2 separate regions of the Homo sapiens genome follow, and region 2 is linked to region 1. Evidence: fine-mapped expression QTL. A gene starts in region 1. The other region holds a variant in brackets. All regions are shown on one strand. Distances are between the middles of the regions. Region 1 holds the start of CERCAM (cerebral endothelial cell adhesion molecule). Region 2 holds the start of LOC124902281 (a long non-coding RNA gene).

Evidence for each region. PIP is the estimated chance that this variant, and not a neighbour inherited with it, causes the effect.
Region 2: its variant is the best candidate, but not a certain one, in a credible set for the expression of CERCAM in whole blood (INTERVAL, PIP 0.57).

What each region holds. Positions count from the first base shown.
Region 1 is chr9:128,417,570-128,422,938 of GRCh38, forward strand. CERCAM (cerebral endothelial cell adhesion molecule) reads left to right here and starts at 3,288. Exons shown (of 13, transcript NM_016174.5): 1 at 3,288-3,505; 2 at 5,299-5,369. The coding sequence starts at 3,309. RefSeq lists a silencer at 2,674-3,573 and an enhancer at 3,834-4,023.
Region 2 is chr9:128,487,315-128,492,683 of GRCh38, forward strand. ODF2 (outer dense fiber of sperm tails 2) reads left to right here. Exons shown (of 21, transcript NM_001351578.2): 14 at 576-711; 15 at 5,112-5,222. LOC124902281 (a long non-coding RNA gene) reads right to left here and starts at 1,083. Exons shown (of 2, transcript XR_007061803.1): 1 at 529-1,083. The variant G/A (reference allele first, on the strand shown) is at 2,820.

The sequences.
Region 1 (5,369 bases):
CTGAGTTTGCAGTTGCCCCAACCTGCCCCAAAACAAGATGGCTATTGGGTTTTCCAGGCAGGTGTGATGGGAAAACTCTGAGGCAAGAAAGTTAGTAACAGGCTGGACTCCTGGGGAGGGTGGGAGGACTTGGGGGAAGAGGAGGACTTGAGGCCAGGGAAGAATCAGGAAGCCCCCTGTCTTAGTCCGTTTGGGCTGCTATAACAACATATCTTAGACTGCATAATGTATAAACAACAGAAATTTATCAGCCGGGTGCAGTGGCTCACACCTGTAATCCCAGCATTTTGGGAGGCTGAGGCAGCTGGATCACCTGAGGTCAGGAATTCGAGACCAGCCTGACCAACGTAGTGAAAACCCATCTCTACTAAAAATACAAAAAATTAGCCAAGCATAGTGGTGTGTGGCTGTAATCCCAGCTACTCAGGAGACTGAAGCAGGAGAATTGCTTGAACCACCCCCCAACCCCTGGCCAAAAAAAAAAAAGAAATTTATTGCTAATAGTTCTGGGGGGTTGGGAGGTCCAAGGTCAAGGCGTCAGCAGATTTGGTGTCTGGTAAGGGCCCGTTCCTCATACCTGGGGCCTTCTAGCTGTGTCTTCATGTGGCAGAAGGGGTTGACAAGCTCCCCAGGCCTCTTTTTTCTTTTTGAGACGGAGTCTCGCTCTGTTGCCAGGCTAGAGTACAGTGGCATGATCTTGGCTCACTGCAACCTCTGCCTCCTGGGTTCAAGCGATTCTCTTGCCTCAGCCTCCTGAGTAGCTGGGACTACAGGCACGCGACACCACACCCAGCTGATTTTTGTATTTTTAGTAAAGATGGGGTTTCACTATGTTGGCCAGGATGGTCTTGATCTCTTGACCTCATGATCCACCCCCCTCAGCCTCCCAAAGTGTTGGGATTACAGGCGTGAGCCACCGCATCCGGCCCCCAGGCCTCTTTTATAAGGGCACTAGCCGCATTCAGGTGGGGCAGCCCACCCAATCAACTCCCAAAGGCCCCGCCTGTTTTTTTTTTTGTTTTTTGTTTTTTGTTTTTTTTTTTTTGAGACAGAAGTCTCGCTCCGTCGCCCAGGCTGGAGTGCAGTGGCGCGATCTCGGCTCGCTACAAGCTCCGCCTCCTGGGTTCACGCCATTCTCCTGCCTCAGCCTCCTGAGTAGCTGGGACTACAGGCGCCCGCCACCACGCCCGGCTATTTTTTTCTATTTTTTAGTAGAGACAGGGTTTCGCCGTGTTAGCCAGGATGGTCTTGATCTCCTGACCTCGTGATCCGCCCGCCTCCGCCTCCCAAAGTGCTGGGATTACAAGCGCGAGCCACCGCGCCGTGCCGGCCCCGCTTCTTAATACCCTGACATTAACATTAGGTTTTCAACATGTGAGTTTTGAGGGTCACGGACATTCTGACCATAGCACCCTTGGACCAATAGGACAGGCAGAGGCTGTGGAATGACTCTGGGGTGGGTGAAGTAGGGAACACTGCTTTGCTTTAGAAAGGGAATCCCTCTTCTGGGGCTGGGAGTGGCTTCCCGCAGGGGACTACCGTGCAAGGGAGAAGAAATCTGGCATCTCTCCAGAATGCTTCTCATTGCAGGGCCGCTGGCCTAGAAATGGCCTCAAATGGAAGCTGCCACCCGATCCTGGTGGAGGCTTTGAGCTAGGCTAGAGATCAGGACTCCAGGGTTCAGTGCGCACGTGCTGCCCCTGCACTAGGTAAGTTCCTTCCTCTATGGACCTTCAGCCCTCCCCTTGCAGTGGAGATAGTGTGCACAGCCCTGGCTCCCCTCCCTGACCCTGGGAAAAGGCTGAAGGGAGACCCCGTGCTGTTCCTAGGAAAGGAGATCTTCCCAGCGGTGGGAGGGTGAAGGGGGAGCCTCCCTCTCCTCCAGTCCTGTCTTCCCAGCCCCAGGGCGGAGCTCTTCCTGTGTGTAAGCCTCCACGCGGGAAAAGCTGCCAGTGCATTCATTCTCTCGAGGAATCCCTGCAAACCCTCCCAGATGGGTGGCGTTATCAGCCCGATTTTACCCGAGAGGCTCCTGAGGGAAAGGGACCTGTCTGAGGTTGGTGACAGACACCCAGTTCGATCCCATCTGTGGTGCCGCCAGGCCGCTCCCTTTTCTGCTCCTCTCCCGAGAGGCTGCAGAGTTCTTTCCCTCCCAGCAGGGTCCTAAGGACCCCGGCGGTGCTCCAGGGGAGCCAACATCCCCTGCTTTGGAGGACGGACGGGTCGGGTCGCAGTGAGCAGCTCCGTGGTGTCCCCTAGTTCTACACTCAGACCAAGAGAGGGCTGTGAGGGCTGTGCTCTTTTTTTTTTTTTCTTTTTGAGACGGAGTCTCGGTCTGTCATCCAGGCTGTAGTGCAGTGGCGCGATCTCGGCTCACTGCAACCTCCGCCTCCCGGGTTCAAGCGATTCTCCTGCCTCAGCCTCCCAAGTAGCTGGGAGTACAGGCACCCGCCACGACGCCCGGCTAATTTTTGTATTTTTAGTACAGATGGGATTTCACCATCTTGGCCAGGCTGGTCTTGAACTGATCTCAGGTGATCCTCCCGCCTCGGTCTCCCAAAGTGCCGGGATTACAGGCGTGAGCTACCACGCCCGGCCTGGCTGTGCTCTCTTAAAGGGCCGAAGCAATGCGGGTGCTGGCGACCGACGCAAGGAGGTGACGCACAGGGGACTTAAGGAGCGGACCGCCGCGGGAGGACGCGCCCAGCTCAGGGGGACTCCCTCTGCGCCCCCCACGCTGGGTCTCCGGCCCACGCGTGGCCCGGCTGGTCTGCGGAGCTAGCGCCAGGGCCGCCAGAGGGCGCCCGGGGCGGAGGATGGGGCGGGAGCCGGGGAAGCCCGGGAGGTGGTGGCCGAGTGGGCGCCGCCCCTCTGGGTCTGCGGCTCAGGTCGAAGAGTCGGCTGCGTGGGCCGGGGAATCCGGATTCCGGGGGTTCAACGCCCAGGGGTTCCATGAGCCCCTACTGTTCTCGGACGCCCGGCCGGCCCCGACGCACTCGTCCTAGCACCCCTCCCCTGTCCGGTCCTCCGGCCCCTCCGCCGTCGCCCCTCCGGGGTCCAGCCGGGCGGGGCTGCTCCAGGGTCGCGGCTGGCGCGGGTCCCCGGGCCCTGGCCCTCCGGTGCCCCGGGCCAAGGAGAGAAAACTTGAGCATCCACGCACAGGGGTGGGGAGCAGGATCCCACTCTGAGGGTGCACTGCCCCGCCCTCTCCGGGTCTGCCTCGGCCCCGCCCGGGCCCCAGGCCCCGCCCCCTCCCCTCGGCCGGCCCGAGAGCTCCGGGGGCCGCTGCAGCCGCCCAAGCGCCCGCCATGCGCGCTGCCCGCGCCGCGCCGCTGCTCCAGCTGCTGCTCCTGCTGGGGCCGTGGCTGGAGGCTGCGGGCGTTGCGGAGTCGCCGCTGCCCGCCGTGGTCCTTGCCATCCTGGCCCGCAATGCCGAACACTCGCTGCCCCACTACCTGGGCGCTCTGGAGCGGCTGGACTACCCCCGGGCCAGGATGGCCCTCTGGTGAGAGACCCGGGCATTGGCACCGAGTGGGCACCTAACCCCCAGCTTCGCAGATGGCCCCCGCCCCCGGCGGCCCTGTCTGCTCGCTCCCTGCCCAGACACCACCTAGACAGGCCCCTCCCCTCACAGACGGCCCTGCCAGCCCGAGCCGCCAGAGAGGACCCCGAGCCCCCTGCTGGGAGACGACAGACCTCTGAGGCCACAGGCCGACGCGGGACACCCACCCCTCCTTCTGGTCCCCTACTCCTTCCTCTTGGGGCCTTCCCTGGGTGTAGGTTGGGCCCAGCCAGCCCTTTTCACCCCAGCCTTCAGGGCCCAGCTCAACCCCAGTGGGACCTGTGGTTGGCTGGATTTGAAGAGGAGCAGACAGGAACCTCTGAAGTCCACTGGGGCCCAACGTGGCAGGGATCGACCACGCTGGAGGCTTCCGGGCACAGGTTGGGGGTGCCATCAGCACTGGGCTCCGGGCTGTGCAGGGGAGTCAGACCGGCCCCCCCACCGCCCCCGTGCTGGGGCCAGCTCTCTTGGTAGATCTTGGTAGAGGGGCGGGATCCTGTCAGCCAAGGGCAGTCCCCCTTCCTGGAGCCTCTCCCCTCTGGCATCTCTGTACCCCCAGGGCACTGGGATCGAAGGCCACAACCCCTGGTCTGTAGACACCAGAACAGGGAGGAGTCCCTGGCTGAGGTTGGGGGTAAACTGAGAAAAATGACAAGCCACCCTCTTCAACACACCACAGTTGGGCTGGGGGGGTGGAGCCCTGGCCTGGGGAGGCCGCCCACAATTACCACAGTTTGGGAGTTTGTTAGTTCCCACCCCTGTAAGACTTGACACGTAGTCTTCATTTCTGGGGAATTGGCTTAAAGGGGCAGCATCACCCAAAACCTGGGCACTTGGCTAAACCCCCACCTCTGTTATGGGGGCCCCTTCCCCAGGAGAGGGGAGGCTGTGCCCCATGACAGCAGAGCTTGGACCCATCTGCATTCTTAGGGACGCTTAGAGCATGGTTTGGTCCTTATTACAACCTGGGGGTGGAGGAAAGCAGCAGCTCTTCTGTCTAGTCCCCATTCAGAGAGGGACAGGGGCTGGCCTGTGGTCACACAGCCACAGGTCACATAGGTAGGTATCTGCCCACCTAACGAAGGTAACCAGGGAATGCACCAGGTGTGATCCTTAAAGTCGAGGTACTTTTCATCTTTCAAAATGCATTCGTTGGCCAGGTGTGGTGGCTCACGCCTGTAATTTCAGCACTTTGGGAGGCCGAAGTGGGCAGATCACCTGAGGTGAGGAGTTCAAGACCAGCCTGGCTAACATGGTGAAACCCCATCTCTACTAAACAAACAAAAATTAGCCGGGCATGGTGGTGCACACCTGTAATCCCAGGTACTCAGGAGGCTGAGGCAGGAGAATCACTTGAACCCGGGAGGCGGAGGTTGCAGTGAGTCGAGATCATACCACTGCACTACAGCCTGGGCGACAGAGCAAGATTCCATCTCAAAAAAAATGCATTATTCTTCTCTTATCTTTGTCCATGACATAAGCAGGACAGCTTAAGTTATAGAGGGAGGACGTGAAGCCCAGAGAAAGATGGGACTTGCCTGAGGTCACACAGCAGGTCACAGAACTGTGGTGGGGACCTGGCTGTGCTGCCTCCAGCCTCTCTGCTGTAGCACACCTACCCTTCACTGTTCCAAGGAGAGCTCGACCTCAAAGGTGTTAGTGCTTTGGGGTCAAGGCTGCCTTGGGGTTCAATCCTGTGGCTGTGCCCCCTCAGCCTTTTTTCTTCCCGTCCCCAGGTGTGCCACGGACCACAATGTGGACAACACCACAGAGATGCTGCAGGAGTGGCTGGCGGCTGTGGGCGATG
Region 2 (5,369 bases), 70 kb after region 1:
GAGACACATCTTAACGGACGTCGTTCAGAGGTGGGACAGGCATGGGAGTACCACAGCAGCAATGCCAAGGCAGGGCAGCAGAGTTGCTTCTCAGTGTGGAGATTGGGGAGCAGGCAGGCAGTATATTGAGTGATGAGAACGCTGGGTCCCACACCACACAAAGACCTGGGTTCTTTAGAACCTGTGTAATTGGCCGGGTGCGGTGGCTCACACCTGTAATCCCAGCATTTTGGGAGGCCGAGGCGGGCAGATCACGAGGTCAGGAGATCGAGACCATCCTGGCTAACACGGTGAAACCCCGTCTCTACTAAAAATACAAGAACTTAGCCGGGCGTGGCGGTGGGCGCCTGTAGTCCCAGCTACTCGGGAGGCTGAGGCAGGAGAATGGCATGAACACGGGAGGCGGAGCTTGCAGTGAGCCAAGATCGCGCCACTGCACTCCAGCCTAGGTGACAGAGCGAGACTCCGTCTAAAAAAACAAACAAACAAAACACACACACACACACACACACACACACACAAACAAACCTGTGTAATTGATTCTCTCTGTCTGCTTTCACTTTGTGATCTTCCAGCCGGGTAACAGATCTTGTAAACCAACAACAAACCCTGGAGGAGAAGATGCGGGAAGACCGGGATAGCCTGGTGGAGAGACTACACCGTCAGACTGCTGAGTATTCCGCATTCAAGCTGGAGAATGAGAGGCTGAAGGTTCGCAGTGAGAGCTGGGGACCAGGCAGCTGGATGGGGCCCAGCGAGCTGATGAGGGGTCTTGTCTTACGTGGGCCTGGGGGCATCTTGACTAAGAGGGAGTCAGAAAAGCCTGGATTTGACCAGGCATGGTGGCTTAGGCCTGTAATCCCAACACTTTGGGAGGCCAAGGCAGGTGGATCACTTGAGCCTAGTTCGAGACCAGCCTGGGCAACATGGCAAAATCCTGTGTCTGCAAAACATACAAAAAGTAGCCAGGCGTGGAGGCATGCGCCTGTAGTCCCAGCTACTCGGGAGGCTGAGTTGGGAGAATCGCTTGAGCCTGGGAGGTTGAGGCTGTGGTGAGCCGAGATCGCCCCACTGCACTCCAGCCTGGAAAACAGAGAGAGACTCTGTGTCAAAAAAGAAAAGAAAGCCTGGATTCAAGTCCTTACTCTGCTGCTTCCTGGCTGTAGGACCTGAGTGAAAAACATTCCATGCCTCTTCCTTAGGTAGAGGAAATGAGGTCCTTGTGAGAATGTGGTAACGCATGTGAAATGCTTAACATGGTGTACTCAGCCTGCGCACATGAGATAGAACTCATTTGAGGTTAATGTGGGCTCTCCTGGGGGCCTGCTGGGCCCCTTCACAGGCATTAATTCTCACTTAAACTGTCCAACCTGCCAGTAACATGATGATTATCTCCATTTGAAATGAGAATAAGGGGCCGGGCTCACGTCTGTAATCCCAGCACTTTGGGAGGCTGAGGCAGGCGGATCACCTGAGGTCAGGAGTTCAAGACCAGCCTGGCCAACATAGCGAAACCCTGTCTGTACTAAAAATACAAAAAAAATTATCTGGGCATGGTGGTGTGTGCCTGTAATCCCAGCTACTCAGGAGGCTGAGGCAGGAGAATTGCTTGAGCCCAGGAAGTGGAGGTTGCAGTGAGCCGAGATTGCGCCACTGCACTCCAGCCTGGGCAACAGAGCGAAACTCCGTCTCAAAAGAAAAGAAAAGAAATGAGAATAAGGAAACTGAGGCTGAGAGAGAAGTCAAGTGTCTTGCCAAGATTTTGCCCTAGGAAGTATCAGAGTTGAGATTTGAACCCGAGTCTGACTCGAGCCCTAGCTCTTAAACTCACCATACCCACTTCCAGCCTGCCAGGAGTGAGAGGCACCTGAGCAGAGGTTGACATTTCAGAGACAGGTTTTATCTTGCTCTTTTGTTGATCTGGGCAATAACATCTAGCTTTATTTTTTCACTGATTTTGTTTTTTCTTGTTAAGATTGATTTTAAGGAAGAATAACATATGGAAAAGTACACAGATCCTAGAATTTTCATAAAGTGAATATACTTTGTCCATCACTCACTCTGATTGAACCTTGCCTGCACCCTAGTGACCTTTCTTGTTACTAATACCCCTGTAAAGGTAACTGCTAGCCCATCTCCTGTCACCACAAATTAGTTGCCTGCTTTTAACTGTAGAGATTTGAATAGTTTGAATATCCCTGGGCCTGGCGTCTACTCTGCAAGTTTGTTGAGTCAGCCCCATTGTTTGGAGGAGTTTATTCATCCTCAGCGCTCTAGGGTATGTCGTTATATGAACACACCACAGTATATTTGTCCATTCTACTGTCAGTGGACATTTGGGTTTCCATAGTGTTGCTGTGAACATCTTTGTATGTCTTTAGGTGTACACATTTGGTGCGTCTTTATTGTTTATATACCTTGAAGTAGAATTGCCAGGTCATCATGGGGTGTGCATTAAGTCTATATTTGGTAGATGTCACTGAATAGTAAAGTGTGTCACTGAGTAGTAAAGTAGTTACTGGTAGATGTTACTGAATAGTAAAGTAGTTGAACAAATCTCCACACCTGTCAGTGGTGAGTAAAAGGATAACAGTTGCTCCTTGCCTCCTTGGCAACGCTTGGTAGCTTGGTATTGAGTGTCTTATTTTATGTTAGCTACTCCGGTGGGAGTGTAGTAGTATCTCATTTGTATAGTGTAATTGTCGGATAAGTTAAAAATAACATGCACGTCTTAACAGTTATTTAGGAGGCCAGCCATGGTGGCTCACACCTGTAATCTCAATGTGAGAGGACTGCTTGAGGCCAGGACTTCTAGACCA[G/A]CCTGGGCAACCCCAGCAAGACCCCATCTCTACAAAAAAATTTTAAAAGCCAACAACTATTTAGGGGATTAGTTATAGTATGGTGCATCTGTATAGTGTATTACAGTGTGGTCATTCAAAATGATGTTTGTAGAAGTATATTTTCCTAGTCTAATTTTTTTTTTTTTGAGACAGAGTCTTGCTCTGTTGCCCAGGCTGGAGTGAAGTGGCATGATCTCAGCTCACTGCAACTTCCACCTCCCAGGATCAAGTGATTCTCCTGCCTCAGCCTCCCAAGTAGCTGGGATTACAGGCATCCACCACCATGCCCCGCTAATTTTTTGTATTTTTAGTAAGAGACAGGGTTTTACCACGTTGGCCAGGCTGGTCTCGAACTTCTGACCTCAGGTGATCAACCTGCCATGGCTTCCCAAAGTGTTGGGTTTATAGGTGTGAGCCACCACGCCTGGCCTTTCCTAGTATAATTATAAAAGTTAAATATGCTCATAGTAAAAATTCAAAACATTACAGAAATGTGATGTAGACATGAAGATCTTCGCTAGCCATGAACATATATTTTTCTAGATTATCCCCCAGTACTAACATATCAAGCACACACACATCCACTCATCCATCCATTATTCTGTCACTTGCTTTTCTGATTTAACTATATTTACGGACATCTGTTAAGGTTGGTTTTTTGAGCTTTATCTCTCTTTTAAGTGACTACTAGTTACTTTATTCATTTGATACACCATGATTTATATTGTCCCATTTAAGATGAATAATTGGGTTATAGGAAGACATTTATTTATTTATTTATTTATTTTTAAAATTTCCCACCTGCATTATAAGTTGAGAGGACATTCATTGACTTGAGAGAAGTTCACAACATAATTTTTTTTTTTAAATATATTTTTGGTAGAGATGGCGTTTTACCATGTTGGCCAGGCTGATCTCAAACTCCAGACCTCCAGGCTGGAGTGCAGTGGTGCAATCTCAGCTCGCTGCAACCTCCACCTCCCAGGTTCAAGTGATTCTTCTGCCTCAGCCTCCCAAGTAGCTGGGACTACAGGCACATGCCAGCACGTCCGGCTGATTTTTGTATTTTTAGTAGAGATGAGGTTTCACCATATTGGCCAGGCTGGTCTCGAACTCCTGACCTCGTGGTCTGCCCACCTTGGCCTCCCAAAGTGCTGGGATTACAGGTGTGAGCCACCACATCCGGCCCACAACATATTGTTAATTTTAAAAGTGTGTTACAGCTAGATGTGGTGGCTCACGCCTATAATCCCAGCACTTTGGGAGGCCGAGGTGGGCGGATCACTTGAGGTCTGGAGTTTGAGATCAGCCTGGCCAACATGGTAAAACCCCATCTCTACCAAAAATATAAAAAATTAGCCGGAGTGGGGGTGGTGGTGTGTCCCTGTAATCCCAGCTACTCTGGAGGCTGAGGCAGGAGAATAGCTTGAACCTGGGAGGTGGAGGTTGCATTGAGCCAAGGTTGTGCCTTTGCACTCCAGCCTGGGTGACAGAGCGAGACTCCATCTCAAAAAAAAATAAACAAATAAAAAGTATGTTACATACAACCTGGCAGATCCCATGGTGGGGAAAAACTATGTTACATAGCAGTAAGTATAGTATAGTCTCATTCTTTTTGACAGAAACGAAAAAGTTATGCAGCTATAGATATATAGCCATATCCAAGTCATTAAGCATTAGGATTAGTGTGTCTTGGTTTTATCCCCATTTTCTTTTTTTTTTTTTTTTTTGAGACGGAGTCTTGCTCTGTCGCCCAGGCTGGAGTGCAGGGGCACGATCTCACCTTACTGCAAGCTCCGCTTTCGGGTTCATGCCATCCTCCTGCCTCAGCCTCCCGAGTAGCTGGGACTACAGGCGCCCGCCACCACGCCCGGCTAATTTTTTGTACCTTTAGTAGAGACAGGATTTCACTGTGTTAGCCAGGATGGTCTTGATCTCCTAACCTTGTGATCCGCCCACCTCGGCCTCCCAAAGTGCTGGGATTATAGGCGTGAGCCACCGCGCCCGGCCTGGTTTTATCCCCATTTTCTTTAATGATTATATATTGCTTTTGGATTAAGAAAAAACAGAAGTCATTTATTTGCATCTCTATTCACTTGAGGTGGTAACATTAGGAGTCTTACCTGCTTCTCGGTGCTTCTCTCAGGGAAAGTGCTCTGTGGGTTAGAGTAGGGGGCCTTTCCTTTTCTGGTTCTTTGGATAGAGTTGAGGGTAGGAGGTCCACCTGAAGCAGAACCTTCCTGTGGGTTACTCATGAGCCATCCCTTCCAGGCCAGCTTTGCTCCAATGGAGGACAAACTCAACCAGGCACACCTCGAGGTCCAGCAGCTGAAGGCCTCAGTGAAGAACTATGAGGGGATGATTGACAACTATAAGAGTCAGGTAGGCCTCACTGGGGCCCTGGCCCTTCTGAGCAGTGCCCTCCCTGCCCCCATCAGACTGGGGGCTCCCTACCAGGCCACTCCCAGGGAGGGTTGGGTATGGAAGATGGTTTTCATCAAAACGTGGCTCTACCTAAGATGAACCACA